Regions from separate parts of the Homo sapiens genome. Here region 2 is linked to region 1. Evidence: fine-mapped expression QTL. A gene starts in region 1. The other region holds a variant in brackets. All regions are shown on one strand. Distances are between the middles of the regions.

Region 1 (4,399 bases):
GCTTTGAGTTCCTAGCTGGTTTGGAATTAGGAAGCAGTAAAGGGCAAATGTGTGAAATACTGAGATCATCTCACCTTTTACTTCTTTACATGAAAGAGCAAGATCTGTTTATCAGGATCACTTTTGATAAGCACAAAGAAGTCATGCCGGATACGTTTCTACTTTAATTCCATGACCCAAATCCATGCTAGCTGAGAATACGTAATTGAATTATTCAATTTAGGTAGAAAACCATCTGCTCAAACCCTTAAGTCTTCAATTCTTGCTGCTATGAAAACAAAGTAAGGCCGAAGTCAAGGAATTGAAGTTGCAGCAAACCTCGTCCAAGGAGACAAACAGCAACAAAGTGTGGGCATTTGCAAAGTATGATCAGCACAAACAGCATCAGGCCCCCAGCTATTCCACTGCAACACTGATAAGGAAAGTTCAGACTTTGCTCCTGGAGCCCTTTTTGTAATTTCCTCGGTCATATCCAACTGCACTCTATGCTTAGTTTATTTTTTTGCCAAGAAGACTGATCTTAGCCACCTAAAAATTCTCATTGCAAAAGAAACCTCTTGTTTAAACCCCAAGTGCAACCGACAGCCCCTTTCCAATTAGCCCCTGCAACTTGCCCAGTCTCTTTCATGCCTGGCTACTGAGCTCAGTCTAGTTTGGCTGCCGGCCAGGTTCCTCTCTTTTTTTCCTTGTCAGTCGTAAAAACTTGGAAAACACTCCTGGACAGCTCAAGGAGACCTTTAATTATGCAGTGGGGCAGTACCTTAGCCTGTCTGCTGTTTCCAGCAAAGCCTGTAGTCACCAGCGACTGCACTCTCCCAATTTGTGGGTTTTCCAGCCAAGGCTACTTGTTCATATGGGGGGAAAAGGGAAAGACTGGCAGAGAAAGGGAGCAATTTGCAAATTTGAAGAATTTCCAATTCCTCTGAAAGTTTTCCACTTCCTCACATTCACTCTGTCTAATAATCTCCCTTACTTTAGCACCTAATCACCCATTTTGTAATACAGACACAAAATCATCAGTATTGTCTCCTGCTAGTCCTAGAAATCAGTCATGACTTGAACATTCTCCGTAACTTTTTATTCTCAAATGTTGGTGTAACGTATTTTAAAAGCAGGCACAAAATAAATTTATTAAATCCTTCCTAATTGACTGCATTACACTTTGTCAAACTTGCAGATTGAAATAGTGCATGTAAAATGTCTGATTGCAAATGAGTAAGGCGAGCTCAGTTGGGAAACACTACTAGGACCTAGGGAGGGGTACCTTGACTGCCAGCCCTCACTTACTTGGAGTTTGCCCAGCGTACCAAGTGGACCCGCCAAGCCCAACACCAGCTAAGTCTTCCTTACTCTACCTTGGCACGCTAGTTCCAGCTGCAGCGTCCAGCTTCCTGTTCAAGTCCCATTCAACATCGTAAACACATTCCAAGAAAACCAGCCTGCCCAGAGTTCCCTCCCGCACACAGGGAAGTCAGCGCGGCAGCCGCAGGAGCCTCAGAATAGAGAGAACTGCCTGCTCCGGATTCTGATCCGTGTGGCGAGTGAGGCCACGAGAAGGTGGACCCGGCCAAGCGAATTTAGCAGTCGGAGCGAGAACCCAAGGGCTCATCACCCCCGCCGCGCCTTGCGCCCTCCAGAAGAAGCTACTTGACCCGCGCAGCAGAAGGGTAACCATGTGGACGCCGCCCCTTCCTTTGGGCCCTCCCAGCTCTGAGCTTTAAAGTATCCGCGGCCCGGCCTCGGAGCTTCGCGCCTCCCCACCCCCATGCCCACATTCTCTCCCAGCGCCAACAAAAGGGAGGCTGCCCTGGAAGTTCGCTCCTGGGTCGCCTCGCTGTGACCCGACGATGACTTGCCTGCTCAGCCCAGTCTGATCCACGCACCCTCAGCCGGACGGATCCACGGTTTCCCCACCGCCTCCCTCCAGTTCCTGCTCACCGGCCCCCCGCCGCCGGACCAAAGTTACCACAAAAGGCTAAGGAGGTTTCTGGAGCCCGGAGACCGCTGCGTCCCCGACCTCGCTGGACTCCCCCAGTCATTTCTCAAGCGCTGCCATAGCAGGCGTCAACAGGTCTTAGCCTCCTTTAGTGCTGGACGACTCCCTGAGCATTTAGCTGTCCTAATTTTTTACAACCTGCTGGCCAGCGGCTACGCGCAGCCCCGCGCCCTCCTTCCCGGGCACTGGTGGCCGGAGCTGTCCACCCCCACCGCCCCTCGGGATATCAGCTTCTAAGCGATTCCACGCTACCTGGAGGGAGCCTGGGTTCGCAGCCAGGGAAGAGCCTAGATAAATCTCCGTACCTCACTGAGAGAGGCAGTCGGGTCAGGCTTCGGGCAGGGGCGTGGAGAGCTGCCGGTTCCTCCGAGCCTGGCGATCTCCACTCCGGCACGGCCGGGGCGCCGTCTCCGAGGCCGAGAGGGAAAGTTTCTCTACGCCAACACGGCGCTGGACTCGGGACCCTCCAGCTTCGGTCCCCTCCCTCTTCGCGCTCTCTCCCCCCTCCCTCCTCTTCCTAATCCGCCGAATCCAAAACTGGCGCTGGCGGCAGCTGGGACGCGGGGCTGGGGACTCCGGGTCGCTCCCGGCCGGGAACGCCGGGCTCCCCCTCTCGGTGAGAAGGAAACTCTAGCCGACTCCGGCTTGCGCACTTCTGGCGGTCTCCTTGGACATTTCCACACGGGACGCCTGTGTTCAAGCTCGCTGACTTTCCTTCTTTAATCTCTGATGGTCGTTATCTGTGGGCCCACTGGACTATCTCGCGCGTGCACGCGGAACCGGAGGTGGGTGGAGGGTGGAATGAGAGAGAAACCCATCCGCAGAAGGAGGGGCCCTACCTTACTCAGTCTTCAGCCCGGACAGAAGCAAAACCACAGGCCCCCTCTCCCACCCCACTCGCGCCGCGTTTCCTTTCCAGCCTCTTCCCTGAGACACTAGATCAGGACCATTTGCCTTTTCTTATCTCTGTGTGTTTCCTAACACAATTTTAAAACACCTCTGAGGCTTCATAGAGGGGTAAAGTGTCAAAAGAAATACACGAATAAGAGTAAAACGTGCCGTCTTCACAGCCTTTATCAAGAAAGCAGCCACAGTTGCTGCTGCTCTGGCCGCACCTCAGCGGACTGGTTTGTCCTCATTGGTTTGTCCTCATTTGTTTTTTAACTCGGCCTTAATCTCTGGACTTTGTTATGCCTTAAAACAGACACACACATACACACACTTGAAAATTGCCTTAACCCCCAGATCATACTCATTTGTTCCATTCAGATGTTTACCTCGGAATTAAGGACTTCTGTATAGGATTTGAGAGAAAACACAACAGCCCATTCTTACTGACCTTTGGTAAAGTTCTGCGTGGGAAAGGGAGCAAGAAGGAGTATCCTTATATAAGAAGTTCTTCAAGGATGAGAGGACCTTTACTAAAATTTTTTCTGCTGCTCAGAATTTAGTTTACTAAATTTTAGTTTGAGTGTGAAAATAGATGAGAAAAGGAAAAAGGCATTTTGCAAAGCTAGCAGTTATAATGTATTACAGTGGATCCAGGGCTTAGAGTCAGACAGGCCAGATTCCATTCCAAACTCCATCTTTACGCTTTCTGTGCCTACCAATTATAACTGTCAACAGGAATTCTATAATCTAGCTCACGGAGTCACAGTCACATTTACAGGAGTTAAAATAGAGTTGTGATAGGCGCAGAGAAAATACTCAATAAATATTTGGTTCTTATATCCCACCATGTTTTACTGTAATTAGGAGAGAGGGTGGTGCTAGAAATTTTCCCCCAAAGACCCTGTAACTGAATCAGTTTTCTTCTCCTTAATGCTTTTTCCATTTAAAAAGGCATCATTTCACAATTTTTGAAATGGAAACTATGTTTACAGATTAACTAGTTCCAGCTGAACTCCCTTATTTTAAATACAAGGTAACTGAAGTCTAGGGCTCTTAAGTGACTTTCCCCAAATCTCATGGTTTGGAGGTACTAAAGCTAATATCAGAAATCAGTCCTCATAATAACTTGGCTGGGGTCCTCTTTTAACTGTTTTTCTCTTTATCACAATAGTCAAGCACACATAAAAATAATTATATTAAAAATATTAATCTCAGGACAAATGCTAGTTTTTTTCTGTAAATAACTCTTAAGCAATTAATTTATGAACAATCATTAAAAATTAAATAATGTCATTTAGATGATCACTTGGTATCAATGTGATTATAAAAATAAAACAAATGGTAGTCCAGTATTTAGGAATAAGGAGGTTGATGAGATGAACGAATCCATGCTTACATTATATATTTACACATAGATATTTTGGGTTTTTTAGCCATAATATTAAAAGATTATAATAACTCTCGATTCCCAAGAATACATCAACATACCACTACAGTTGGCTGACCCTAGTT
Region 2 (4,399 bases), 37 kb before region 1:
TGTAGGGAGTGCTTTAGTCATAAGGCAGCTCTCAAATCTAACAAAAACTTGGTACATAACTAATTGAAACTTTTTTTTCCTACACAAGATTAAGACCATTTAACTGGTGATCTTGTGGTTCAAAACATCTTCTTAGTAGCACTAACAAAGAACAAGTAAAAGCTCAAGGCTCTGGTTGAAACAGAGTGAAGGACCCAGGCATCTTTGGCATACCTGACCCATTGTCGGGGGAGCTGAGAGAGAGACATCTATGGAACTGTGGAAACACCAGTAATCCAGATGAACCTTTTCATTTTCAAACAAAGAATACGAAGCCCAGAGAAGTTCAGTATTATAAATTTACATGGCTTGTTGGTGACAAAATATTCTAGAAATCCACACTTCTGACTCCTAGTCTACTGTTTTTGGTAATAAAGATTTCTTTACTATTGCAAATTGCCTTTTATTCAAAATACTAAAAGTTAGACATAAATCACAGAATGCCCAAGTGTTTAAATTTTTTTACATATAAAGATGCCACAGTGTAAACAAAGGGCTTAAAATAATCACATTTTAAAAGCAGTCTGACATTTCAAGGATAGCTGCAATAACACTCCTTATGTTCTCCTCTCAGAGTTGTAATTTAATTCTGTTTGGCAGGAAAATCAGTGATTACTCTCACTTTCTGACATTTAAAAGTGCCCACCAAAAAGACAAATAATATTTTCAAACATAGTTCTTGTGTTATACATACTTTATATGTCTACCTGAGTTTACATAGACATGTCAGTATTTTATGGATATACCTATTTATAGGTACTTAGGTAGTATACTTGCTAATTATAAAATAGATAAGTTTATTTTTATAAAATACTTACCTAATCTTAAGAATTATTTTAAATGCTGACTGAAATGACCTAACCACCATATATTTACAGTGAAAACTATATTTACAAATATCCAACTAAATAATTTGAGAATCAACAGCCTAGGTAATTTGAGTATGTTTCATAACTTTAAATACTACCTATATGATGACGACTCCTCAATTTGTATCTCTAGCCTACACATTTCCCATGAACTGCCTAAATACAACTACTTTGGCGCATCTCAAAGTTAACAGGTACAAAATCAAATTCCTGATCTTTCTCCCTAAACTCTTCCTCCAATGACTATTCTCCTATCAGAAAAGACAGATCCATCCACCCAGTTGCTAAACTTGGCATAATTCTAGATTCCTCTCTTAATATCCTATATCCATCAGCAAATCCTGTCCCCATCTTGCCAAAATACATCACGAACCCCATCGCTTCTCACTATCTTTGCTTCTACAATCACCATTGCCTTTCTCAACAGACTCCTAACTGGCCTCCCTGCTTCCATCTTTGTCCCCATAGAGATTATTCTCCAAATAGTAGCAAAAGTGACACATTATAAGCTTATCATCACCTCCGCTAATTTCTAATCTCATTCTGAGTATATGCCCTATAAAGGCACTCTGTGATCTTCCCACCTCATTCTACTACCTCTCTGACTTAATTTCCTACTTCTCTCCCACTTCATTTCAGCCACCCAGTCCACTTCATTGTCAATCCAACATTCCAAGAATAAAGCTACTGTTTTTCTATGCAGATGGTTCTTTCCCCCACACACCTCCATGGCTTTTTTCTTCACCTACTTCACATGTCACTGATAATGTCAAACCTATTCCTAGACTACCTATTCCTAGACTAGCATCCTTATCAGTCAGGATCCCAGGAATTGGGTGCTGCATTAAATTCAGACAAACAGTGCAGTTGAATAAAGAACTGTTTACAAGGGTACAAGAGGGATGTAATAAAACCAGAACGTAAAATATAGAACCATTGGCATGGTAATAATAGTGCTATTGCCTCCTCCAGCCTGAAGGAAGAAGAGGAAGAGAAGATAACAGAAACTCAAAAAAAAAAA[G/AG]AGTCCAATAGAGAGGGCTGCCTTGAGAAAAATACTGATGATTGAAGGAGGGAAGCAGACAGCCTGAGACCACCTGTGAAAAAGAAGCTGAGAGAATAAATACAGTGAGAATAAATACAGAGAATAAATGCAGTGAGTGTCCCGAGACCCTTTTGCATTGCAAGTGATTTATGAGTTGATTCATGATGTTTGATCCGTATCATAGATGCTTCTGACTTCTAAAAAGTGGAAAAGAAGGTATGTTTATGTGTTATATTCCAAAAGGCAAGATAGTATTAAATGTTTAAGTATTCATCGTGTATACTCATATTCATCATGAATAAACCAAGTAAGGCCTCTCATAGGACACTCCATCCCCCTGGCAAGAGTTTATTAAAGAAAAGCTCTTTAAGAAACAGACATTAGGTGAATCTGCAATTCCTTGATTTTGTAAATTATTTGTGACATTTAGAACTCATTGTATGCAGTAATCAGAAAAACATTACTTATTCTGTTACAGCTTCTCAGACTCCCCAAAGCTGATGCAACTAAAGGAAAAGATAAAACCATAGGGCAGAAGAGCAAACATCTGTTTTACTTGTGAAAACTGAGGAATTTATGTTGAAGGATAATTAATTAGCAAGCAATATATTTTTGCTGATTCTAGTAGCACCTCCTAGGCCACCTCAGTTGGCGAGGCAAAATAGCAACCAGGATAATATGGCATTAAGAGAAACAGAAGTAGAAAAACGCTAGAAGATATCCCTAGAAAAGGTCTTCCCCATCCACTCCCAGTTTCATTAAGAGACGAATCTCATTTATTGATGATCCCTGACTGTCTTCATTTTCCTGAAAGGGAAGATGGGAATAAACAAGGTTGAGAGAAGATAGAGAGAAATGGAAATAGAGAGATTAAGTTGCTATAAGGTTTCTGAAATGTGCTCTAATCTTAACCCTAGAAATATAACCTCATAGCCATCTTACAATGTATTTTCATCCTATTACACTCCTTTTCCTGTGAAAGGTAATCAGATATGTTATTATGATTGCTCTCCAATTCTAGATCAAAGTGGTGGTGATGGTGGTGTTTCCTCTCTCTCCAAATGCTTTTGGTACCAGATGCTCTCAGACACATACATATTACAAAATGACCTCTTGGTATGTACTTTTACTCATCACTCTGGGCATGTAGGATCATTTGGAAGCAGTGGGAGAAGTAGGAAGTTTCCTGGGAGATATTTCTTTACCAGAACAGCAGAAATAACTTCATTATACACTGAACTAATTTTGAACCACCATAAATATTAGGTTGGCCATGTGAAATTGTCAGTGCTCCATCATTTTCAACCTCAAAAAATGCCACTTTCATATGGCTCACACCAAAATATTCTACTAAGTGCAAAATAAATGTATCCCTAACTCAGCATCCCATTAGCCAGAATTCAAAATTGTCCATGTCCACTCTAACACCATTTTTTACACTAAAAGAAATATGACAAATAGGAGTAGAAGTGCACAGTTTAACCTGATTATGTTTAAATCATCTTAATTGCAAATGTTACATATGGTCATGTGAATAAGATGCAGGGTCTTGGACACAGCCTGAAAAAATAAGGAGCCCTGAAGCCTGTGGTCCATTAACTTCATAGTAAATAGCCTCTACAGTCTCAGTCCTGTCACTGACAGTTTTGTCATCTGACCAGTCCCAAGGAAACTTGTAAGGAGCATTAGAAAAGTAAACACACTTCTCTTTTCCCCCAAAGAAATGTTCCCATATGTCACAAAGAAATAATTCCCAATTTACAGGCACAAGCAGAGCAGAGCCTTGTCCATCTATTGCCAGATTCAAATAATCCTGTCCAAAATGATGAAAACTTGTGAAACAAAGAGCCCTATGTTGGTACAGGAATCTCATCTCCTTATCTTATTCCCTAGGGCATTCATCAATTGCATGTTCTGTACAGTAGGCATCTTGCCTTCACATGTGCATTTGTAAAACACAGAGGCCTCAGATAAAAATGTTCTCAATGCAAAATGTAAACTTGTGCTTTATCTAGAATCTGACACCAGGCTATTTGCTAACTGGCCCTACAGTGAAAGAGCTTTCTGGCCATATGGTTTTTAAGTCTGACACAAAATGCCACACAGAGAATAGAGTTCAGCTAGAGCCCTCGACCCATTTTAGTTAGCATCTTTTTCCCTGCTAGTTTTCCAGATAAGTCTCTCCACCACAGACCGATGCCTTGTACAGACTGTCTGCTGAATTCTGCTGAGTCAGGAGCATAGTCCAGGAGAACTGTGCTGAGTCTACACAAAGGCCACCATCTGTTGCAGAGCTTCTAGGAAGAGTGTCATCAGTATGAAACATGATGTCAGCCCTAATCATTACTGGACTGCTTTGGAAGCTAAAGCCAATAATGGAAACGTATTCCAGAAGGTCATTAACACGACTTCTTTGAAATAATTGAGAACACTGCTACATAAGAAGAAT

What was found. PIP is the estimated chance that this variant, and not a neighbour inherited with it, causes the effect. A credible set is the group of variants that fine-mapping cannot tell apart.
Region 2: its variant is the best candidate, but not a certain one, in a credible set for the expression of GULP1 in cartilage (Steinberg 2020, PIP 0.78).

Annotation. Positions count from the first base shown.
Region 1 is chr2:188,290,069-188,294,467 of GRCh38, reverse strand. It overlaps GULP1 (GULP PTB domain containing engulfment adaptor 1), which reads right to left and starts at 2,594. Exons shown (of 12, transcript NM_016315.4): 1 at 2,302-2,594. RefSeq lists an enhancer at 1-742.
Region 2 is chr2:188,326,675-188,331,073 of GRCh38, reverse strand. The region is part of intron 1 of GULP1 (GULP PTB domain containing engulfment adaptor 1); the gene reads right to left. Among named protein-coding and RNA genes, the nearest start is that of MIR561, 31 kb to the right of the region's middle. The variant G/AG (reference allele first, on the strand shown) is at 1,930.